7 linked regions of the Homo sapiens genome follow. The protein of the gene in region 5 purifies or fractionates together with the protein of the main gene of each other region. This does not show direct contact. Each region holds a gene or a part of one and is shown on either strand. Other genes may lie near its edges.

Evidence for each region.
Region 1: the proteins of NUP160 (region 5) and RIC3 purify together in Homo sapiens (co-immunoprecipitation; one large-scale study listed by IntAct). This does not show direct contact.
Region 2: the proteins of NUP160 (region 5) and VSIG1 purify together in Homo sapiens (co-immunoprecipitation; one large-scale study listed by IntAct). This does not show direct contact.
Region 3: the proteins of NUP160 (region 5) and PPP2R5E fractionate together in Homo sapiens (co-fractionation; one large-scale study listed by BioGRID). This does not show direct contact.
Region 4: the proteins of NUP160 (region 5) and NPTN purify together in Homo sapiens (co-immunoprecipitation; one large-scale study listed by IntAct). This does not show direct contact.
Region 6: the proteins of NUP160 (region 5) and URM1 purify together in Homo sapiens (co-immunoprecipitation; one study listed by IntAct). This does not show direct contact.
Region 7: the proteins of NUP160 (region 5) and CD226 purify together in Homo sapiens (co-immunoprecipitation; one large-scale study listed by IntAct). This does not show direct contact.

Annotation. Positions count from the first base shown.
Region 1 is NC_000011.10:8,113,526-8,117,025, reverse strand, and holds part of RIC3 (protein RIC-3 isoform a precursor), read left to right. Parts: intron 1-3,500. UniProt on the Homo sapiens protein: Molecular chaperone which facilitates proper subunit assembly and surface trafficking of alpha-7 (CHRNA7) and alpha-8 (CHRNA8) nicotinic acetylcholine receptors.
Region 2 is NC_000023.11:108,062,065-108,065,564, forward strand, and holds part of VSIG1 (V-set and immunoglobulin domain-containing protein 1 isoform 2 precursor), read left to right. Parts: intron 1-2,645; coding exon of another isoform or gene 2,646-2,723; intron 2,724-3,500.
Region 3 is NC_000014.9:63,533,378-63,536,877, reverse strand, and holds part of PPP2R5E (serine/threonine-protein phosphatase 2A 56 kDa regulatory subunit epsilon isoform), read left to right. Parts: intron 1-3,500. UniProt on the Homo sapiens protein: The B regulatory subunit might modulate substrate selectivity and catalytic activity, and might also direct the localization of the catalytic enzyme to a particular subcellular compartment.
Region 4 is NC_000015.10:73,563,890-73,567,389, forward strand, and holds part of NPTN (neuroplastin isoform b precursor), read right to left. Parts: exon of another isoform or gene 3,049-3,500; intron 1-3,048. UniProt on the Homo sapiens protein: Probable homophilic and heterophilic cell adhesion molecule involved in long term potentiation at hippocampal excitatory synapses through activation of p38MAPK. May also regulate neurite outgrowth by activating the FGFR1 signaling pathway.
Region 5 is NC_000011.10:47,838,351-47,841,850, reverse strand, and holds part of NUP160 (nuclear pore complex protein Nup160), read left to right. Parts: intron 1-163; exon of another isoform or gene 164-607; intron 608-1,262; coding exon 1,263-1,473; coding exon of another isoform or gene 1,474-1,623; exon of another isoform or gene 1,624-1,785; coding exon 1,786-2,008; exon of another isoform or gene 2,009-2,350; intron 2,351-3,500. UniProt on the Homo sapiens protein: Functions as a component of the nuclear pore complex (NPC). Involved in poly(A)+ RNA transport.
Region 6 is NC_000009.12:128,381,374-128,384,873, forward strand, and holds part of URM1 (ubiquitin-related modifier 1), read left to right. Parts: intron 1-3,500. UniProt on the Homo sapiens protein: Acts as a sulfur carrier required for 2-thiolation of mcm(5)S(2)U at tRNA wobble positions of cytosolic tRNA(Lys), tRNA(Glu) and tRNA(Gln). Serves as sulfur donor in tRNA 2-thiolation reaction by being thiocarboxylated (-COSH) at its C-terminus by MOCS3.
Region 7 is NC_000018.10:69,888,874-69,892,373, forward strand, and holds part of CD226 (CD226 antigen isoform a precursor), read right to left. Parts: intron 1-3,500.

The sequences.
Region 1 (3,500 bases), about 40 Mb from region 5:
ATCCATTCATGGATGTTCAGATTGATGCTATAGTGTGGCTATTGTGAATAATGCTGCAGTGAACATGGGAGTGCAGATATCTTTTTGACATACTGATTTCTTATCTTTTGGATATATATCCAGTAGTGGGATTACTGGATCATATGATAGTTCTATTTTTAATTTGTTGAGGAGCCAGTATACTGTTTTCCATAGTGACTGTACTAGTTTACATTCCCAGCAATAGTATATAAGGGTTCCCTTTTCTCTACATCCTTGCTGACACTTATTATTGCCTTTTGTCTTTTTGATAATAGCCATTCTAACAGATGTGGTGATATTGTGGTTTAAATTTTCATTTCTTGAATGTTTAATGATGTTGAGCACTTTCTCATATGCCTGTTGACTATTTTTCTGTCTTCTCTTGAGAAGTGTCTATTTATATCCTTTGCCCATTTTTAAATTGGGTTTTCTTTTGCTGTGGAGTTGAGTTCCTTATATATTTTGCATATTAACCCATTATCAAATATATGGTTTGCAAATATTTTCTCCCATTACATAGATTGTCTCTTTACTGTTGTTTCCTTTGCTGTACAGAAACTTTCAGTAATCCCATTTGTCTATTTTCACTTTTGTTGCATGGGCTTTTGGTGTCATATCCAAAAATATCATTGTCCAGACCAATGTCATGGAGCTTTTTCCCTAGGTTTTCTTCTAGTAGTTTTACAGCTTCAGGTCTTATGTTTAAGTCTTCAGTGCATTTTGAGTTGATTTTTGTAAATGTGAGGTGTGAGATGAGGGTCTAATTTCACTGTTTTGCATGTGGATATCTAGTTTCCCCACACCATTTATTGAAGAGATTGTCCTTTGACCTTTTTGTGTTTGTCCTTTGACCTGTGTGTGTGTGTGTTTTATTTTTTGGCATCTTTGTTTAAAAAAATTGACCATAAATATGTGGATTTATTTCTGGGCTTTTATTCTGTTCCATCAGTCTGTGTGTCTGTTTTTATGCCAGTAACATACTGTTTTGATTACTATAGCTTTGTAGTAGATTTGGGAATCAGGTACTGTGATGCCTCTGGCTTTGTTCTTTTTGTTCACAATTGCTTTGGCCATTTGGGGTCTTTTGTGGTTCCATATGAATTTTAGAATTGTTTCTTCTATTTCTGTGAAAATTGTCATTGAAATTTTGATAGGGATTGTATTAAATCTGTAGATTGCTTTGTATAGTATGGACATTATAGCAGTATCAATTCTTCCAATCCATAAACGGGACATCTTTTCATTTTATTTGTGTCTTCTTCAATTTCTTTCATCAATGTTTTATAGTTTTCATTTCAGCCTCCCAAGTAGCTGGGATTACAGGCATGCACCACCATGCCGAGCTAATTTTGTATTTTTAGTAGAGGTGGAGTTTCACCATGTTGGTCAGGCTGGTCTCGAACTCCTGACCTCAGGTGATCCACCTGTCACAGCCTCCCAAAGTGCTGGGATTACAGGCGTTAGCCACCGCACCTAGCCTATACTTTCATATATATATATATGTATATTTGTGTTACTGAATAGTGTCCCTTGCTCTCTACTTGAAGAACACCCTTGAGCATTTTTTATAAGATAGATCTTGTGGGGATAAGCTCCTTCAGCTTTTGTCTGGCAGAGTCTTTGTTTTTTCCTCATTTCTGAAGGAGAGCTTTGCCAACTACAATATTCTTGGTTGACCTTTTTTTTTTTTGTTTTTGTTTTTGTTTTCCGTAAGCATTTTGAATATATTATCCCACTCTTTTCTGGCCTTTAAGGTTTCTGCTGATAAATCTGTTAGAACTCCCTTATAATGTGATGTACTTTTTTTCTTTTGCTGCTTCCAGCATCCTCTCTGTCTTTGATTTTTGATAGTTTGATTATAATACTTCTTGATATAGTCTTACTTGAGTTCAGTCTGATTGGAGACTTTTGACCTTCTTGTACCCAGATATTTATAACTTTCCCCAGATTTGTATAGTTTTCTGCTATTATTTCTTTAAGCTTTCTATCCCTTTGTGTCCGTCTCCTCCTTCTTGAACTCCAGTTCCCATAAATCCCATAAGCTTGCTTTCTTTTCATTCTTTTTTTCTCATCCAACTGTATATTGTCAAATAATCTGTCTTTAGATTCAAAGGTTCATTCTTTTGCTCAATCAGTTCTGCTGTTGATACTCTCTATTGCATTTTTCATTTCAATTCTCGTATTTTTCAGCTGTAGAATTTCTGTTTGATTTTTTTAATATAATTTCAATCTCTCGTAAATTTTTTGTTTTAGTTATTTATTGTTTTCCTGGTTTCCTTTAATTGTTTCTCTGTATTTTCTTGAAGTTCGCTGAGTTTCCTTAAAACAGTTATCTTGAATTCTTTGTCAGGCAGTTCATGTGTCTTCTTTTTCTTTCTTTCTTTCTTTTTTTTTTTTTGAGATGGAGTTTTGTTCTTGTTGCCCAGGCTGGAGTGCAATGGCTTGATCTTGGCTCACTGGAACCTCTGCCTCCTGGGTTCAAGCGATTCTTCTGCCTCAGCCTCCTGAGTAGCTGGAATTACAGGCGCCTGCCACCACGCCCGGCTAATTTTTTGTATTTTTAGTAGAGATAGGATTTTACCATGTTGGCCAGGTTGGTTTTGAACTCCTAACCTCAGGTGATCCATTTGTCTTGGCCTCCTAAAGTGTGTGAGATTACAAGCGTGAGCCATCACGCCCGGCCGTATCTTCATTTCTTTAGAGTCTGTTCCTGGTGCTTTATTTTGTTCATTGGTGGCAACATGTTTCCTTGATTGTTCTTGATCCTCATGGCTATGCATTGGTATCTGTGCATTTGAAGAAGCAGGGACTTTTGCTGGTGAATGGTTTTTGCATTCTGGCTTTGTCCGGAAAAGCCATTCACCAGTCAGCCTGCCCAGAGATTCTGGGTAGGCCATTTGGTGTGATCTGCAGGTAGACTTGCTGGTAGAGTCCTTAGGCAGGGTGGCCTGGTGTTGAGTCCGTGGGGTTGGGGTTGAAGCCTGGATCCACTGGGGTGTACCTGTTGATTGGATCCTCAGGCATGGACCTGGTGCTTGTATCTTGTGCAGAGAGGCTATCCCAAAGCCTAGGTCCACAAGGGCTGACCTGGGGCTGGACTGGGCCTTGAGCCTGGGTCTTCAGAGATTGGCCAGGTGCTAGGATGAACCTGGTGCCCGGGTCCACTGAAATGGGCCTGGAGGCTGAGTCTGATGGATGTGTCTGAAGGCTAGGTTCATTAGGGCTGGCTTGGGTCCTGGGGCCACAGGCCTCAGCCTAGAACCTAGGTCCATAGGGGCAGTCCTGGGGTTCTGAGGGCCGGCCCAATGCTGGGGTCTACTGGGTTGGGCTAGACCCAGGGTCTGCTGGATTGTGGGAATGCAGGGGCCAACCTGAAGGTGGGGGTGGTCATAGAGACTAGCCTGGCACTGGGCAGGCCTGGAGCCTGTGTCTGCAGGCTCCAATTTGGGTGCCATTGGGGTGCCAATTTGGCACTGGGC
Region 2 (3,500 bases), on a different chromosome or scaffold from region 5:
GGCAGGCTAACATGGAAATTTGGGGTGGTCTGGTGCCTTTCTGGTCACACAGATGGCTTCATCTTCCATCCAGTCTGTTAATGCTAACACTACAGAGACCCCACCTGTCCCTGAACAGACCATGCCTTGACTCTGCTTAGCATGAATCTCTCAGACAATACTTATTCTTCAAGAATGTTCATAGTGAAAAAATACCCTTTGCCAGTCTCATAAACAACTTAGACAACTTCTTTCCCAGGACCTAGTGTTCTTATGTTCTCTGGCTTCTCAGGTTTTACAACCTGAAATACACAGGACAGAGCCACACAATAAAGAGTTGTCTGCCCAAAATGCCAGTGTCACCCCTACTGAGAAATACTGCAAGTTCTTCCCCACCCCACCATCAAATTTATGTATTGTGTCCCATTCACTTTCTGCTAAATCTGATAAATTAATCTCATGGTAAGGTGTTAGGGACTAGCGAAAGCTTATTTTATTCTCTTCTAAAGAATGCATTGAATGGGACCTTCCATGCCTTCTTCCAAAAGGAGCAACTCAAATGGCAGATACCCAGGCAAATGGAGGGTTGGTAAGAGAGTTGGTTTGGAAGCAAGAGAGTCTTTCTTTTGGTATCCCATTCCTTCCACATGCCATCCCTGCACCACAATACAGTCCAAATAAAATTCTGAGCTTGTGACCATTGCCACCTTATACCTGCACACCCCTTCCCTATCCTATGGCTAGCCCCTCTATCAGCAGTACAAGAAAGCAAGAAGCTGGAAAGGAAAGAATGGGTGGTTTGCTGTGGATGTCCATGTCCTCCACCTTCCCAGAAGGAATCTGCAAAAGCAGCTCTGGAAGCTAACTCCAACTCAGATTCAAACAGAAAGCAGACTGAATTCTTTCAACCCTTCTTGTTTATACTCCATGCTTCTAGTTAGAGAGCAGTGTCACTAAGCTGAGGAAAAAGTCTTTTAGGACAAATCTGGTTCCCAGCTGCACGGCCTTGTGTGAATAGGAACTTGGCACAGTAGGAAGGGAAAGGTTGCTCTGCAAAGAACTGAGGGGCCTACAATTGCAGCTGGCAAATATTGAGGGCATCATGTGGTGAACATACTCAGCATGGGAAGCATCATGCCAATAAATAGCAACAATTGGCAGGAGAAAGGTTGGGCTGGAGCAGGGAATGGAATGGTCCCAAAAGGAGAAGGTTGCCCAGGAATCATCTTTCTCATCTTAAGAAGCACTGTGAGTGCCATCTTAATATATTCAGTGGGAATCAGAAGGTCTGAATTCCAGGTCTGACTGTAAATTGTGTGACCTTGGGAAAATGGCTCCCTCTATTGAGGCCTCGGTGTCCTTTTTTTGTATTAGAAAAGGATGAATTCGAGTTTACTAACCGCAGGCCTCTGGGTCAGATTTGGCCAGTGGATGTATTTCAGTCGGCCTGCCCAGTATTTTGTTTGTTTGTTTCAACAGTTCGAATGCCTTGTTTGCGTTGACTTTTCCGTTCCCTGCAGTCCCCATATCTGTTATGAGCTTACCACTACTTACCAGCCCCTCCCAGCCATTTCCCATATTTCCAATATCCATCGGGCTCCTGAAGGCCCCTTAACCTTAGAAACCACAAACCAAACTATCTCACAGAGGTCTTATAATTAATGTGCAATTATGACTCCACCCATCAGCCTCTAGCGTCACCCTGGGGGCAGGCAGAGAGGACCTTGGGAGAAAGCAGGGCAGTCTACCATGAACCCAAGCACAAAGTGCAGGTGGGTAAAAAATTAACAAGCGCCCCTTAAGGGAACACTGGGATGGATTTCCTTAAAAAAATCACCTCCTCCCCACCTCCACCCAAAGATGTGGCCCATTGTACATCCGGGGCTTTTTCTGGATCTCCATTGCTTTGACGTCTAAATTGATAATATTCTTTCTTTGAAAAGTGTACAAGCCACACAGGATCATGGGCCAGGCTTTGGCCACTGTTCAGCTTTGATTTTTAAAAGAGTTATTCTTTTATGGAAAGTGGAATCAAGTTGTAGCCCTTCCTATATGATTAGATAAGCAGTTTCAGGAAAACACTTCTTTCTTTTTTTCTTTACAAGGACAGTGTGACTGTGTGGACTTCCCCTTAACAGAAAGCCCCTCCATGTATGTGTCTGGCTGCTGCTGTCTACCCCTAGGTACTTTACTTCTTACAGAGAACTGTGAAGCCAAAGCCTTGGCTCTTTTAGGTCTCCATTGTTAGCCCTCACTACCCCCATTTCTGTCTCTAATACCTTTTAGTGTCAATCGTGAGAGGGCAAAATGTATTAGACTACAGCATGAGGAGCTAGCATGTAAGAGGTAGTAAAGGTCTTTTTCATGGGTAAGGTTCCAGGGCCTCATTGCTTATATACTCATTTCACCTTGACTCATGCCCAACTATGGGACTTTTACAGTGGGCATGGACACATGGATACAGTGGACACTTTTACTTCTTCTCATATCCTAATTCTGGCCTAAAACACACCATTTTGGCCTCAAGATCTCTGCAGAAATAAGGTCCTTTTCACCTGGATCCTCTGGGACTTGCTGTGGGCCTCAGGCGTGACTGATGTTGTATCTCATTGTGATGTCATCAAGCATCAGTATAAAACAGGGCTGATGTTTTACACTGTCCACAGTCTCCTTGGGAGGAGGGGAAGTGGCCAGATGTTGAGGCTGTGAAGGGCACTCTTGATGGACAGCAGGCTGAACTCCAGGTAAGAAACAACAAGACCTCAAACTGTCAATTAGAAAGTAAATAAGCCCCATGCTGCCTAGTGAAATTGAAAGCCTGATAGCGTGGGTGCCAACTCAAATGAAAGTAATCCTCTGATGTATTGAACCTCCTTCTGTCCCACTTGAATACCTGGAGTTAATCCTGGCTTTCTGGTTTGGAAGTCAAACAAGACCATTCTGGGGCAAGAGTTTGTGATTTCAGTAGGTGTGAATGAATGAATTATAAATGGCTGCATTTATAATGCAAGCAAGAAAACACGTTGATGTTAGAAAAAACGGGAGAGAAACAAATAGTTTTCTCTGTAAATGTACTCTTTTCCTGGGATTTTTCCCTCAAAATCCAGCTTTCTGCCTTAGTTTTAAAATATATTGACTTTCTGCTTAAAGGAGAATACATTTGAATTCATCTAGACAATATCTTTTGGTTTTCTAATTGCTTTCCCTCTTTTATTGGCCTGTTAAGGTAAAGCCCACAGTACAAGGAATTAGGAAAATTGGATTCCAGATCTGTCTCAACCGTCAATTTTGCCTTTTATTTTTTAACCTCTCTGGGCTTTGGTTTCTTCTGTAAACTGAGGGAAGTGAATTAAATGAACTGTAAGGCCTTCCAGTAGATTTTATGAAAAATTAGTCTCACCAGACTAAGACAATACAGTTTATTGAACAATAACAATCACTTGAATAATATACATTTACATGAAACCAACAAAACATGTACATAGAAGGTGTGTATTATGAAGGGACCTCAGGAATTACCT
Region 3 (3,500 bases), on a different chromosome or scaffold from region 5:
TGTTTCCCCCACCAGCCCTTGGCAACCGCCATTCTGTTTTTTGTTTCTATGAATTTGACTACTCTAGGTACCTCCTATAAGTGATGCCATGCAATATTTGTCTTTTTGTGACTGGCTTATTTCACTTAGTCAAGTGTCTTCAGTGTTCATCTCTGTTGTAGCAGGTGTCAGAATTTCATTCTTTTTTAAGGCTGAATAATTTCAGTGTATATACATACCATATACTTTTTAATCCATTAATTCATTGGTGGACACTTGGGTTGCTTCCACCTTCAGGCTATTGTGAATAATGCTGCTGTGACCATGATGTACAGATACCTGTTTAAGTTCTGGCTTTCATTTCTTTTGGGTATGTACCCAGACGTGTAATTGCTGGATCATATGTTGAATTTTTCAGGAATTGCCATACATATTGCCACAGCAACTGGACCATTTTTCATTCCCATTAGCAATGCATGAGGGTTCCAGTTTTCTATATCCTCACCATCACTCATTTTCTGCTTTTTAATTTTTTGATAGTAGTCATTATAATAGGTATGAAGTGGTATTTCAGTGTGATTTTTATTTGCATTGCCCTAATGATTAGTGATGTTGAGCATCTTTTCCTGTGCTTTTTGGCCATTTCTGTATCCTTTTTCTCACTTTTAAAAGTGAAGTCTGCTAGTGTTGCCAGTTTTCCAAGAACTCTGCTTTCCAAGAATGTGATTTTTTGAACTTGTATATTTTGCCAGTATGAGAGAATTGGAGAGTAACAGGACTATATACTCACAAACCTAATTCCAGAGTGACTAACAGTGATTGTTATGTAGTAAGCACATTCTGGGTAAATACTCTGGAAAGTATTCTATAAATTAGAAATCCATCTCTGTCTGTAGAATAACATAAGGAAGTATAATCAGAAATAGACTTCAGTAATGTGTATTTGCTCTTGATTTTCTAGGAAGTAATTTATGGAATATAAAGAAAATGTAGGAGGAATTTCTTTTCTAGGATTTTATTTTTTTTGGCCATTGCCTTAAGAGAAACCAGGATAAACACTATATGCATGCTAAGGGTAGTTATTGATTTAATTTTCTATAGTATTGCTTTGACTAAATTGGGTTAATTTTATTTGGAGTACAATATAAAATATGGTTGAATTTTGTGAGTTGTTTTAAATAATGAAGTCAAAGAGGTGTCCTTAAGGTCTTTAATTTCAGGGGAGTTTGAATACGATAATTATACAAACAGTGATTATGTAACTCATCTTTTAATATGTCATTTTTGAATGCTCAGATATGCATTAATAACCACTCGTTTTGTGCATGCATTATCAGAATGTTTATTATATGCATCATAATCTTTGATTTATAAATAATACTGCATTAATTCTTAGCGTTTTAAAGTCTGTTCACTTGCAAAACTGCAACATAATGTGAAGGGAAAGTTTTTGTTTTGCCCTATTTCTTTTTTTTTTGAGATGGAGTTTTGCTCTTGTTGCCCAGGCTGGAGTACAGTGGTGCGATCTCAGCTCACTGCAACCTCTGCCTCTTGGTTCAAGTGATTCTCTTGCCTCAGGCTCCTGAGTAGCTGGGATTGCAGGTGCCCACCACCACACCAAGCTAATTTTTTTGTATTTTTAGTAGAGACGTGTTGAGACCAGCCAGGCTGGTCTCAAACTCCTGACCTCAGGTGATCCACCTGCCTTGGCCTCCCAAAGTGCTGGGATTACAGGCGTCAGTCACTGCGCCCAGCCTATTTTGCCCTATGTCTAATAGGTGGGGTTTTGAAATCTGTATCACTGATGTTATTTCCTGTAGAAAGCAACACCACCTGTAATTCTGTATAAATCTACCTGGTTTTTCCGTATCTGTGTGTTAGGAAATTATAGGATGAACTTTGCAAAGATAGACATTTACATTTTCTCCATCTTTATATGCTTTTGTGAAAGTGTTCTTGGAGAGCCTTAACATTTTTGAGGCTGGGTATGGTGGCTCACACCTATAATCCCAGCACATAGGGAGACAGAGTTGGGAGGCTCGCTTAAGCCCAAGAGTTTGAGACCAGCCTACGCAACATAGTGAGACCTCATCTGTACAAATAATTTAAAAAATTAGCCAGGGTGGTGGTGTACACCTGTGGTCCCAGCTACTTGGGAGGCTGAGGCAGAAGGATTGCCCGAGCCCAGGAGGCTGAGGCTGCAGTGAGCTGTGATTGTTCCACTGTGTCCAGTGTGGCTGACAGAGTGAGACCTTTGTCTCAAAATAAAAACATTTTTTTCTTTGAGTCTAAAAGATTCTTACTCATTCACTGATAGGGAAAACCTAGTAGAGGTTTAGTGCCTTACTTACTTGATAAGAAAGTAAAATCTTGGGGGAGGCCGACAGGGGGCGGGTCATTTGAGGTCAAGAGTTTGAGACCAGCCTGGCCAACAGGGTAAAACCCCATCTCTGCTAAAAATCCAAAAATTCGTGGATGTAGTGGTGTGCATCTATAATCCCAGCTACTCAGGAGGCTGAGGCAGGAGAATCACTTGACCCCGGGAGGTGGAGGTTGCAGTGAGCTCATATTGTGCCACTATAAACTCTGTCTTAAAAAAAAAAAGAAAGTCAAGACTTGGATACTTTCCTTACACTTACACAGCAGGACATGAAGCAAGCCTTGACTGTTATCTAGGTAAGTTGTTGAGTAAGACAGTCAAACTAAACAGTTAGGCAAACACACAAACACACACACAAATTTATGTTAATAATAATCAGTGGTAGTAGCACCTGGCTGGGTGATTTATGTTCTCTCCTCACCCCAGCCTCCTGTGCCTCATTTCCTTGCGTTGACTTTAAGCAATTCTGTAAGTTTAGATTTGGGTGAACGTTTTCTGAAGAATACTGCCTCTTTGAAGATGGAATTATAGTGAAAGTAGCATTGTTATTTCTTTTGTTTGTTTGTTTTTCTGAGACAGAGTCTCGCTCTGTCACCCAGGCTGGAGTGCAGTGGCGCAATCTCGGCTCACTGCAACCTCTGCCTCCCAGGTTCAAGTGATTCTCCTGCCTCAGCCTGCGGAGAGTAGCTGGGATTACAGGTGTCTGCCACCACATCCGGCTGATTTTTATATTTTTAGTAGAGACGGGGTTTCTCCATGTTGGCCAGGCTGGTCTCGAACTCCTGACCACAGGTGCGTCCGCCTGCCTAGGCCTCCCAAAGTGCTGGGATTCTTGGCATGAGCCACCGCGCCCGGCCGCCATTGTTATTTCTTGTCTCACAATTCATTATACATTTCCGAGGCATTTTGCAGATAGTTTGTACATTCACTTTTAGATATTCTTACAACTATGATGACTAGACGGAGTTTAGCTCTTGTTGCCCAGGCTGGAGTGTAATGGTGCGATCTCGGCTCACCACAGCCTCTGCCTTCCGGGTTCAAGCCATTTTCCTGCCTCAGCCTCCCAAGTAGCTGGGATTACAGGCATGCGCCTCCATGCCCGGCTAATTTTGTATTTTTAGTAGAGATGGGGTTTCTCCAT
Region 4 (3,500 bases), on a different chromosome or scaffold from region 5:
CTGTGACACACCGAGGAAAGCTGAACAGTGGTGACATCCCTCTAGAAAAGACTTCAGAAAGACAGGCTCACTCCTGTGCCCTGGCCAAAACCAGAAGCCAAACCCAGGGGAGCCATGAGATAACTTTTTTAAAATCAAAAAGCTGACATTATATGAGTTTAAGCCTTCTTAAATTGATACTTTATGATTCTGATTTATAAGTCTTTCGTGTTTCAACTAAGTGCAACTTGATCCCCTTTAAGCAGAGATACACATTCACAGAGAGAGAATGTTTTAAAAAGACCCACAAGGGGAAGGGAACAAGTAAGTGCTCTTAGTTTGTTTTTATTATACAAAAGTCAGGTAAACTAAATGATTCAGAACAGTTTGATTTCACTGAAGGCTTCTAGAAAAATTCTCAGCAGGATTCCACAAGGGGGCTTGGTGCACATGAAGCAGTTATGGAGATTACAGTCTCAGTGTAGGCATCTGCAGGAGCACATGTCGGGAGTAATGTCTGTCAGAGGGAGACATTGCTCCACCTGTTCCTTCGAGGCAACGGAGAGGCAAAGCCACCGCCAGCACACACAGTGACTGGAGCAAAAAAGGATTTCAAAAAAAAGAACTAACCACAAACCAATGACTCATCAGCCAAAACAATAGGCTAGCGACACACTAGTGTCCACAGGAGTCCACTACTAACAACAGTATACACTATCAAACGGGTACAGAGAACAAACTAAGACTTAAGGACACCCAAGACATCTGTGTGCTGTGTATGCAGTGGAGAGATACAAAGACATACCAGGTACTAAGACACAAAAGCCCAGCCTAAATTCTCCCCTCACAACATCCTAATGCTCAGCATCCCGGCCAAGCCAGCTCAGCTACATGCTAGGAACTAAGCACTTTGGGGATTTAAATGAAAAGACATAGGAGCAAACTTGGAATACTTTTAGTGCTCTGGCTGTGCACTCGAAAATACAAAATTCTAATGCAAGAGAGCCGAATCAAGAATACACCAATCTACTCCCAAATTTAAAATAAAAAGCAGGGGAGGGAGAATCGCAATAGCCAGGCTAATCTTTTCAAAGCATGACACTGTAGGCACCAACCCAAGCACCTCACACCACGGGCTGTTTTTCCTTTTGGAGTGTGGGTATTCCCTGGTGTCTGATTAGTAATGTCACTTTCCAGCCCAACAAGCTGGTAACATGCAAAGGGTTGCATGGAGGTGTTTTAGCGACAGTGCCTCCGGCATAGCTGCCATGCCTGCAAGTGGGAGCAGTTGAGATTCACAAGGGGGCAAAATCCCAGGAGCCCTCTTCATCTGTCTCCCCAAATCCACTTTCACACTGACAAACAAAAGAGCCTCATGTCTCCCCACTCTCCTGGACTGAATCACTATCTGCAGCACCACTCTCCCCTACAGGTCAGACAAAAAAACGACTTGACCCCTAACAGGGAAGTCAGGGGAGAGGGAAAGAACAGAATTACAGAAAAAAGATACAGAAACCAAAGTAAATGAGGATTAAACAGCAAACTGAAATCCAAATTAGTTGTGAAAGTGAATGAAGTAAACTTGAAGAAAAGTGTTAACATTATGAACTGTGCATCGTATAGACTGAAGCGGAGATTAAACAAACTCCAAAAGCATGCATATCGCTCACTTACCACCATGTTTTAAGGGTTTGATGCAATTGAGGGGGGAAAAAAAAGAAGTCATAGTAACCGACAAATATCAACATACCCCAAACCCTCAGGCCAAAAGATAGCCAGCTTAAACAATGACTGTTCTCTCCACCTCAGTATTACAGCCACTGGCTAGATGAGAGGAAGAGGACTGGGGGGATAATGGAAACAAGATGCTTCTGGAATCCACCTTATGAGAGTGAAGTTACCGGTGGAACTGTAGCACACACTGATTTATCTGCGTGTTCCATCTTCCCAACCGAATGGACCACAGCCCTCACTCCCCCTATATCCGCCTCATCATCTAGAAGGGGTGCTCTGCAATGTCTAGTAAATAACGGATTGCCTAATACAATATCACCTCCAAAAAGATGGCTTTAAAGTCCGAATAATGAAGAGTTGACTCTCTGGTCAAAGGTCCTTTGTCACTGCATTCATCTCACTAGAAGGTTTTATGGTTTCTAAATCCACTTAAATTTTGCCTGACCTTAGCAGGTTAGCATTAAACCCAAGAGAGACTGAGTTACTTCCTATTTCCTTCCTTGTTTGGTCCTATTGCATTTTCTCCATGAGGTAACTTGTTATTGACCCAGATGGCCCCTAGTTAACAGACCAGACACCGAATGCATGTTTTAGGTGTCATTTTAAAAGTCACATTTCTTTTCCAATATCCCTAGTCTGTATAAAGCTTCATATGCTACCAAATGTTTTGACCAACGAATAGATTTTGGAACATTAGAACAGCTCTTCATTCTAAAGTGTCTAAAAGAGCTTGGATATATCAGAGCCACTAAAAATGGCCCCCCAAAAAACCTCAAATATCTTCTCCATCAGTAACTTAAAGAGAGTCCCTTTGACTTGCTTATAAAAAATTATCCCAAGGTAAAAACAGAAAGTTCTTTTTTGGTACCAGCACTTCTTTTCTTAAATCAGCTCCTGTTTTAATTTGCTGTCTGTGAGGTCACTAAAATATCCAGAAGAACTGCAGGCCTCAGCAACTAAGTGGGTTCACTCCCCATTCCTCCAGGGCCTGGGGAGGGGAGACTCAGGAGCACAGGCTGACTGCTCCTGGAGTGCAGTCCGCAGGACACCAACACAGAAGGTGCACCCAAGCAGGTGCCCAGCTGTGACATGGATGGAAGCCTAGAGGCTGCTAGCTTGACCTGGTCTTTTTAGAGAACTATCATTTAACATTTTCAGGGAATACAGTCAAGTGGTGAGTCAAGTGAACAAAACAAAGCTCTTATTTGACTCCATGATTCACTTGTTCCTGAAAATACTGAAGGTAAAGGTGATCTGTAGATTAGTCCACCTACAAGACAACCTAGTGGGCACTGATCCTCAAAGAGACCATACAGGGGACTAAAGGAATGCAGGTGGGTGTTTTCATGTAGGAAATGGTCTGAGAATACTCCAGTAGGTAAAGAAAAAAGACATGGGGCTTTTTTTTTTTTTTTTTTTTTAAAGGAAGCAGCTAAACCTCAATCCTAAGCATTTTCAATGTGAGAAATCTAAATATTTGATTTTCTAGTGAAACATACTTAAACTAAACTATGTAAGTTCAAATTTGTGCTTTTATACTTTTGTATTGTTCACTTAGTGCTTTTGTAGTAAGGGGATGAGTTACCAAGAACTCACAGACTGCCCAAAATATGACGACTGTGCATTCATATAAAAAAAGTTCAGTGAGTCTGAAATGAGCCATGGGTGTATCTTGATAATAAAGTGCTATTTGGCAAAGTAGAAGTATGGCAGGCCTATAAAAAAATTCCCATTTTCCTAATGGTATAAAAAAAATCCAACACAGAGCCACAGATGGTTATCTGATA
Region 5 (3,500 bases):
CCAGGTGTGGTGGTGCACACCTGTAGTCCCAGCTGCTGAGGAGGTTGAGGTGGGAGGATTGCCTGAGCCCAGGAGTTCGAGGCTGTAGTGAGCTATGATTGCACCACTGCACCCCAGCCTGACAGAGTGAGACCCTGTCTCAAAAAAAAAACAAACAAACAAACAAAAATTATCAGATGGTACATGCTCCTTAGAGCCCTCAATCTCTCGAACTAGAGCACGTTCCAGGATCACATGGCCTTCCTTGTAACACTGGCTGTCTTCGGTGGCAAACTCGTAGATCCATCCCAGTTTGCTGCTGCAGTTTTTCAGCTCACATGTTGGACCATGTGGTGGCCAGTGAGCATGACCCAATCTAGAGCTTCATTGTACTGCAGGTTCACTACCTTGTTAAAAAGAAATGCTCTGCCAGTGGCGCCTGTGAACCAAGTGGAGATGAATTCTGAGCGGTTGGTCAGGATTGTATCACAGTTTGCATAAGAAAATGGACAGGTACCACGAATATGATCAAGGAAAATTCTGCCCATTTTTATGGCTGAAGTTCTAAAAACCCTGTGCAGCAGTGAGATCTGTGGCTGCCAGTGGCTCCTTGCTCCTCAGCTGGGATTAATAAACAAGCTCCTTTTGGGGAGGGTGGGGGAAAAAAGAAAAAAATAAATAAACAAGCTCCTTTTGAGGAGTAATAATGAAAGTTAGAATAGCTTAGTATAGAAACTAACCCTGATATGTTCAATTTGCGAAGGTATTTTTATATTAAAATATTTATTTTTGTAATATTTTTGCACATACATGTAAGCGCATGTATAAAATTGCTATTCTGTGTGTGTGTGTGTATATGTGTGCGCATGCATGCTATTGCAGGTTAAGAAGTAATAGAAACAGGAAATAACCGCAATTATTAAGGTCAGTTTTGTTTGATGCTGTAGTATATATGGAGGCCACATTCCACTACAAGCAATGGCCGGGGTATGGTGTTAATTTTTATTATAGTAGAGTTAATTGCATAAAATATTGTCCTAAATAAATGGCCTATCAAGTTTGGAAATGTCTCTATGTAACAGAATCACAGTGAAATTTGGATTTTGTTATGCTGTTTTTTATAAATGTACATAATGTGATTTGGCATGCAAAAGTGGTCCAAATCTGTTTATCCAAAATTTTCAAATTTGGTGAGTTCACTTGGACACTGTTCTCATATATTTCAGTAGAACAGTCAGTGAGAAAAGCATAAACTTTTCAAACAAATGTCTCTTTTTCAACAGGAAGACCTCTGGAGATACATTGGAGCTGATGGAGGAGTCACTGGACATAAATCTGTTGAATAATGCCATTCGCCTAAAATTCCAAAATTGCAGTGTTTTACCTGGAGGGGTTTATGTCTCTGAGACTCAGAATCGTGTGATAATCTTGATGTTAACCAATCAAACAGTGCACAGGTTACTTTTACCACACCCCTCCCGGATGTATAGGAGTGTAAGTTGGCTAAGTGCAATATCTTTTATTTCCCAAATTACTCTGGGTGTCACAAATGTAGTGCTGGAGCGATGTCTTTTGGAATTGAAGGAAATTTGGATTCTCGTTATCCCTCACCAAGCATACTTTGATAGCTACCGCTTAAAATGATCAGGCATACATTTTAAGTTGAGAATTAGTTTTCATTAAGAAGAATAGCTTTCTTAAACTTGACAGTTTTTTACTTTAAAAACTTTTTTAGCAATAGAGAGGAACTGAGCAAAATTCTGGTTATTTTGATTTAATAGATTTTTCTTTTTAATTACTCAACAGGAGTTGGTAGTTGACAGTCAGATGCAGTCAATATTCACTGACATTGGAAAAGTTGATTTCACAGATCCTTGCAACTATCAGTTAATTCCAGCAGTACCTGGAATATCTCCTAATTCCACCGCCTCTACAGCCTGGCTCAGCAGTGATGGGGAGGCCCTGTTTGCCTTACCATGTGCTTCTGGGGGAATCTTTGTTCTTAAGCTACCTCCTTATGACATACCTGGTAAGAATGGGAACTGAGCATGGATTTAACTTTAAACAAGGAATGTTAACATTGAAACAGTTCAACCTCGTCATCCAATGCAGGGATTGCATCTCTACTGCCCCGGAACTGGTCATTCATTATTGCTTGCCTAATGAGTCCCTAATGCTTTACTTTTATACAGTGGATAAGGAACTATAAAGCATATTGGAGCACGGAAAAACAAATAGACAAGTATAAGACAGCCTATTCTAAATCTTGTAGTAGAGATGGGTTGCCTAATTGTCTGCCCTGAGATGGAGGCATTATAACATTATAATTAAATTAATTGAAACAAAGACATTAAATACCCTGCACCAAGTTGCCACTGTGTCTTGCCTGGATTATTGTATTAGCTTTCTATATATCTCCCCAGATCTGTCTTAACCCTCTTCAGACACTTCTCAGGTGGACTGATATATTTAAAACCCAAGGGCCAGGCGCTGTGGCTCACGTCTATAATCCCAGCACTGTGGGAGGCCAAGGCAGGTGGGTCACCTGAGGTTGGGAGTTGGAGATCAACCTGACCAACATGGAGAAACCCCGTCTCTACTAAAAATACAAAATTAGCTGGGCATGGTGGCCCATGCCTGTAATCCCAGCTACTCGGGAGGCTGAGGCAAGAGAATCGCTTGAACCCAAGAGGTGGAGGTTGCGATAAGCCAAGATCGTGCCATTGCACTCCAGCCTGGGCAACAAGAGCGAAACTCCATCTCAAAAAGAAAAACCCAAGTTGGGTCATGTCACTGCACTGTGTAAAGCCGTCCTTTATGTAGTGCAGTGACATGACACAACTTTTCTTTTATTCTTTTTTTTTTTTTGAGATGGGATTTCTCTCTGTCGCCCAGGCTGGAGTACAGTGGCATGATCTCAGCTCACTGCAATCTCCACCTCCTGGGTTCAAGCGATTCTCCTGCATCAGTCTCCTGAGCAGCTGGGATTACAGGCATTTGCCACCATACCCAGCTAATTTTTGTATTTTTAGTAGAGACAGGGTTTCACCATGTTAGCCAGGCTGGTCTCGAACTCCTGACCTTGTGATCTGCCCACCTCAGCCTCCCAAAGTGTTGGGATTACAGGCTTGAGCCACCGCACCTGGCCTTTCTTTCTTTCTTTTGAGACAGAGTCTCACTGTCACCCAGGCTGGAATGCAGTGGTGCCATCTTGGCTCACTGCAACCTCCGCCCCCCCCAGGTTCAAGTGATTCTCATGTCTCAGCCTCCCAAGTAGCTGGAATTACAGGTGTCCACCACCACACCTGGCTAATTTTTGAATTTTTAGTAGAGATGGGGTTTTGCCACATTGACTAGGCTGGTCTCGAACTCCTGACCTCAAGTGATCCGCCTGCCTCAGCTTCCCAAAGTGCTGGGATTACAGGTGTGAGCCACGGCACCTGGCCAACATGACCCAAGGTGGGATTCAAATATATCATGTTATGCTGAATAAACCCAGAGTCCTTACACTGGCCTAGAGT
Region 6 (3,500 bases), on a different chromosome or scaffold from region 5:
AGGTGGTCAGCAGAGGTCTCTTTAAGGAGGTAACATACCAAGGCCAGGTGCAGTGGCTCACTCCTGTAATCCCAGCACTTTGGGAGGCCAAGGTAGGCGGATCACCTGAGGTCTGGAGTTAGAGACCAGCCAGGCCAACATGGTGAAACCCTGTCTCTACTAAAAATACAAAAATAGCTGGGCATGGTGGTGGGCACCTGTAATCCCAGGTTGAGGCAGGAGAATCGCTTGAACCCTGGAGGTGGAGGTTGTATAGTGAGCCGAGATCGTGCCACTGCACTCCAGCCTGGGCGCAGAGCAAGACTCCGTCTCAAAAACAAAAAACAAAACAAATAAAAGGTAGAAACCAAAATTTAGAGAAGTCAGGGGTCTCACCCCAAGTCATAGAGTTATTTAAATAGCAGGGTTGGGATTCAGAACTAGCTTTCAGGCCACTGAATTTCAGAGTCCTGGCGCTTTGCCACTAACCCATCACCGTCTATCCCAAGAGGCTCCCTGAATTACTCTAACATCTTACATTTTCCAGTTTTTACGCTTTCCTTCATTTATTTATTCATGAGTTCAACAACTACTTATTTCAACTTTCAGATGACCCCAAGAGATAAGAGACCCCTAAAAGAGAAAGAGAAGGAGGGAGGGACCTGAGGCCTGCCCAGAGTTACCCAAGTAGGGAGGCTGGGCTGGGACTCAGATTTTTTTATCCTTCATCTTCCAGCCACTGTTCAGGGAACAGGCAGGGGCCTATCCCCACTCTGGGAAGAAAGGAGGGGAGTGGGAGGGAAGGCACAATGGCCCACTTAGTCTTTGGCTCCTTTGCTGTGAGTCCCTACACCTGGTTCCTGTTGTGCCCAGAGGCATGGGTCACACAGCAGACCCATGGTAACCTAGGTTGGTGACCTAGGTCACCAACAGAGCTGGTTAGCAGCTGCCAGGCCTCACCCTGGCACATGTGAGCCCAGCTGGGGGTCAGGGGCCTGGTGCTGCTAGGAGAGTCTTACCCTTCCCCCAAGTCCATGCCCAGATATGTCATCTGGCAGACTTCCCAGCCTAGGGGCTGCCACTTGGCCAAGCGAGTCTTGGAGGTTCCAGCAGAAATAATAGCAGCCGTAAGATTTCAGAATGTGACAAGCCTCACAAATGAGGGAACTCGTGGCTCCTAGGCCAGGGGAGAGCTTCCAACCCAGCCAATTTGGGAGAAATGATGAGCAAGGCCTGAGGGAGTGAGACTGCGAGAGAGGAAGCCTGGCACGCGCAGTTGCACATCACTTATTCCTGCCAGACTCTTTCTTCCCTATCTGTAAGATGGGAGGTTGGGCTCGCTCTGTATGTTATTGAGCTGGTTGTCTCTTTGACATCTATAAGAAAAGTTTCTTCAAGATCCAAGTATATACAATTCGGTGAAGCAGAGTGTGCTGACCCAGTAAGAAGTTGTGTGAGAGAAGGGATGTCTTAACAGCCATCTCGCTGAAACGGCCATGCAGGCACCCACCAGCTTAGGGTATTGCGGCTGCTGGGAGTTGGCCTCTGTGATTCAAGCATCCCTTTGACCCAAGGCCCCCTGCCCAGGCCCCAAGTGTAGACATGGCCGCCTCACCTTTCCCTGCCTGTCTTCCCCTGTCCTGCCTTTGTGCCCCCTCTGCCTGCTCCACTTGTGTTAAAGGGTGGCTGGTGAGGGAGGGCAGGAGCTGCAGGAGCTCCTGGGCGCTTTAAACTGCTTAGCATGCATTTCACAGCCTCTCTGGGGCCAGCTGTTCCTTTCTCTGCTCTCAGGGCCTGTTTGCTGATCCCCTCTCCACCTCCCTCCTCCCCACACCCCTCCCAGTCCCTGTGCAAAATTGCTTTTGAAAAGATCCACTTTCTGCTTAATTAAACAATGAGGAGGTCCCCTCGCACATCTGTAAACCTCCTTCTGAGGCCAGTTTAGCCCACAAACTGCTCCATTCTTACCCCCATTCACTTGTAAATGGCCCCTCTGATGTTCCCTCCACCCCCTCTCCTCTGTTACTCCCCCCTTGCCAGCTCTTTCTTTTCCCTTTTCAACTGAGGCCTGGGGTGGGCTCTCCGAAGAGCCGTCTTGGAGCCTGGTGGACTTGGTGGGGACAGAGGCAGTTTAACCTGTGGAAGAGAAGACTTAGGGGATCCTTTCTTCCAAATCTGAAGGGCCATCCTGGGGAAGAGGGGGTGCATTTGTTGGCATGGTCCCCGTGGACCATTCAGGCCCAGTGGGTGGGAATGACAGGAAGACAGATTTCTGCTTGGGAGAAAAGAGCTCTTAACAATCAGAGCCGCTCCACAGAGGAGCTGACCTCCTGTCCCTGGAGGTGTTCAAAGAGAGGCTGGATGAGGGTCTGTTACGCCTGCGAGTCAATATCAGATACGACTTTGAGGTTGTTCCGTTTCAGTCCCACGAGGCTGAGGCTGACACCCTTTGGGGCCCTCCCACAGTGGGCAGTCAGTGTCCCCCAGAATAGGACAAGTCCACCGGGGCGAGGGATTCTGGTGGAGCTTGCGTCGGTGCTCTCCACAGTGGGTATCCTCCCTTTGGCAGCAGCCTTTAGAAGGTACTGGAGCCCAGAGGATGAGGAATCTGAAGTCACTGTGGGCTTACAGCTCAGAGCAGCCATCTGTTGAGCGTGTCCTGTGTGTGTGACACTGCCAGGCCTGCCTTGGGCATTGTGCCTTACGTAATCCTCAGCAGCTCTTGGTGTTTGGATTATTATCCCTGCTTGTCAGAGGATGACACTGAGACAGCAAGATGAAGTGACTTCCTAGCTAAGGCCATCGAGCACACAGCCGAGGTCCTCTGGCTGTAGACTCAGAACTCAACCACTCCAGCATAGAGCAGCAGCTCTCATTGCCTGCTCTGCCCCCGATGGGCAGGCCAGGTGCCAAGGTATCCTGCACTGGAAACCTTGTATTAAGTGCCCATCTCCTTCCTCTGGTGCTGTGTGCCCGGGGGCAGCCTGGCCGCCAGCACCTACAGACTCAGAGTGTCATTCCTACCACCTGGGTTGTACTGGGAGCATTGGCCAACCCCAACATCTTGTGGGTTCAAACATCTAACACAGAAGGAAGGTCAGTATCTAGGACCCCTCACTACTCTCGCAGTCCCCTCATTCCCTTTCCAGCTTCTGATGGGAAGATACGGGATGCCACAGAAAACCCCAGCCGGTCCCAGCACTATCTGATTAATGGTTGGCTCTACCTTGCCCTCTAAAGCTGAGGTGCCAGGCCACTGGGCAGAGCGTGCAGAAACCCAGAGAGCGCGAGGGGTATAGGTTCTTCCTCTGGATCCTGGAGTAATTACAGCATTGATATGCAGGGCACAGTGCTGAGAGCTTTGTATATATCGTCTTATTTGATCCCCCACAATGACCCTATGAGACAATGTTAACATCCCCATTTTACAAAAAAAGGAAGCCGAGGCTTCCTATTACCTAAGGTAATAGAACTAGTAAGTGATGGAGTCCAGCTCAAAACCAGGCCTGTCTGACTCCAGG
Region 7 (3,500 bases), on a different chromosome or scaffold from region 5:
AATAACTTATCACTATTATTCAATATCTTACTTATCTATACAATAATAGTATGTATAAAAAATGACTGCAGGCAAACATTCTAGGTTTTTGTGTGTTCAAAAAATGAATAGATCAATACTAGGGCTTACAAAACAAATTAACTGACCGGTTGCATTTTTTTGAATGCAATAGATCATTAAAAAAAATGATCTGGGCAGAGGCAACAGTAAAGTAAAGATTCAACCACATAATAGCCATGATTGAGTAATCAACTCACTTGTGATGCTGGAAACTATGTTTCATCTGGATACCCAGTTTCACCGAGAAAACTAAATTGGGCTGAAAATTGTGGTTGATCTGTTTGAGTAGAGGTTATTTTAGCTTGTGAGCAGTGACACGGTGCTCTGGGATTCTGGTCGTGTTGCTCCATCATATAAATTAACTGTCATGGACATTTTACTTTCCATGTAGGTAAAGATAATAAAAGGCTGAGGTTCACCACACAATGTCATGGAAAGGGACATATCTGTCAGCCCAGTGCACACCAGTTCAGACAATCCTCATGTCCACAAGCTTTATATCTATTCTAAATTCATAGGAGTGGGACAGAAGGTTCTGGATTAATGGAATCCTTAAAAAAAAAAAAAAACTGTCTTGTCTACAACCTGAAACTCTTCTGGAATCCAAATGGACTGGGAGCAAACTGGTTGGTTTTTGACAGAAATAAAAGGCCAAGGAAATAAGCAAAATTTATTTCCTTTCTTCAATAATTTTATAATCCAACTCAGGAGCACAGAGTCTCAAAGTCAGTAACCTCCCACAAGCCATCTACAGGCAAGATTTATAATCTGTATAAATAAGATGTATCATCTATATACGGATGTATTTATAACTTACAGCACTCTATTCCCCTGTCCTTCCTCCTTGTCAATCCTATACCTCACATCGTCCCAGAGGAAATATCTGGGAAGATTCTCTTAGCTGTGGCACTATGATTTCCTAGTGAATAGTTTTGTAATCTTAATTTACTAATCCCATCCTTCTATTCAGATGACCAGCAATTATGTGCCACTTATATTAAAAATTCAAAATAAGAAAATGAAAGTTAAAAAAGTAAATAGCCCTATCTGAAAGTTATATATGTAAACAAGAGTTCATGAAAGTTTTTTCTCCAATCACTGTAGTTGATCTTTTGAAAGTTCAGTTTCTTTGATCAACAATCAGTAAACCTCAAAGGTTAAACGTTGAAGAAAAAAAATCTGGAAAGAAAAGAGGTAGAAAACTTAAAATTAAAATGGACACAGCCCCTACTAGAATGAATAGAAACATTAACATAATCGGTCAAGAACACTTACTGGGCATATTCTGAAAAGATGCTTTGACAACTTTAAGCAGATGCCATAATCCTTAATCTCAATTAATTTCTGATAACCAGAGTTTGGAACATTACAAATAGATGCAGGCCAGGTGTGGTGGTTCACACTACCAATCCCAGCACTTTAGGAGGCTGAGGCAGGGGATTGCTTGAGCCCAGGACCATCCTTGAAACCCCATCTCTACCAAAAATACAAAAATTAGCCAGTCTCATAACCCGGTCTCAAAAAATAAATAAATAAATAAATACAAATAGATGGAAGTTAATAAGTCACTCGAGGGTAGCAATTTTCAGACTATAAAAGTTTGAGAAATCCAAGATGCTTAATATTTCAATGATGGGGAAGCAGTTTGGTCTGATGTGGAAAAAAACATAGACATTGAGACGGCTGAAACTCTATAGGAAAGAAAGCAAATGTGATGGAAACTTAGTCAGTTAGAAAAAGGAGAAAGTAGGAAAGTGTGAGTGTTTTGAGGCAGTGGAAAGCACAAACTGAGATTCAAATCATGCTGACAGTATCTCTCTACCCTGTGTAGGACACCTTTGTGCCTACAAAGGTAGGTGGATCAGTGGCCTATGACCCATCACTGATCCCAGGACCAGGTGGCTTCACAGATGAATTCTATCAAACATTCTAGGAATTAATGCCAATCCTGAGTTTAGAAACAGTTCTACATTATCATGTGTAATCAATAAATGATTTAATTCTTTTTTAAAAAAAGAAGCAGTTCTAAACTCAGTTTATGAGACCAGCATCACCCTGATACCAAAACCAGACAAAGACACCACAAAAAAAAAAAAAAAACCTACAGGCTGACATCCCTAATGAACACAGATGAAAAAATCCTCAACAAAATACTAGCAAACTAAATTCACCATCACATTAAATGGATTGTATATTCTAATCAATTCTGATTTATCCCTGGCATGCAAAGATGGTTCAACATATGTAAATCAATCAATGTAATACACCACATTAACAAAGTGATATAAAAAGGCCACATGATCATCAAAATAGAGCATAAAAAGCATTTGACAAATTCAACATCCTTGTGTGATTAAAAAAAAAAAACTCTCAACAAATTAGGTACAGAAAGAATTTACCCCAACACAATAAAGGCCATCTATGAAAAGCCCACAGCTAACATCATACCAAGTCATGTAAGACTGAGAACTTTTGCTCTAAGATCAGGAAAAAGACAAAGGTGGCCACTTTCAACACCTCTGCTTAACATAGTACAAGAAGTCTTAATCAGAGCCATTAAACAAGAAAAAGAAAACAAAAGGCATTCAAATCAGAAAGGAAGAAGTAATATTATCTCTGTTTGCCGATGACATAATCATATATGTATAAAACCCTAAAAGTGCCACAAAAAAACCTGTTCAAACTAATAAATGAATTCAGTTAAGAGGCAGGATACAAAAATCAACATATAAAATATCAGTCAGGTTTCTGTACACAAACAGCAAACTATCCAAAAAAGGAATTAAAACAAAATCCCATCCCCAATAACAATAAAAGGAATAAAGTATTTAAGAATAAACTTAACCAAAAATGTTAAAGACTTGCACACTGAAAATCATATAGCAACTTATTCTTTCATGATTATTGTTTTGCCATCTTTGCTCAAGAACTAATGGTAGCTTTGCTTGACAATTATATGAGATGCAGGTTTTCACTGTCATCACTTAATTTAACCTACCTCGTCCCATATTAATACATAACTTAGACTCTCCATACCAACCTAGTCATTTGACTACAGTCTCCCATGCACCATCTCCCCATTCCTCCTGCATATTTGGGGTTACTCTTCATAACCTGTTTCATGTCATTCCTCAGCTCTAATCATCAATGCCTCATTTGAACCTTGATGGTCCCGCCTGAGTGGTCTCACTGGTGGAAGACGATTATACAAGGACATGAGTAATTATACTTATCAATAGCAAACAGAAGTTTTTTCAATATTAGCCTCCTCCAGAAACTTTCTGCAAGAGCTGATTTTATTTCTTTTGCCTTCATTCTTTTTATAGCCAATAAGGTCAGTTTAAACAATAGTAGTCTGCAAATCATTTAGCTAATATTAAAATATTTGACAAATTATTTTAGTGGCACCTAAAATACTTCTCTTATGACAAATGAAAATC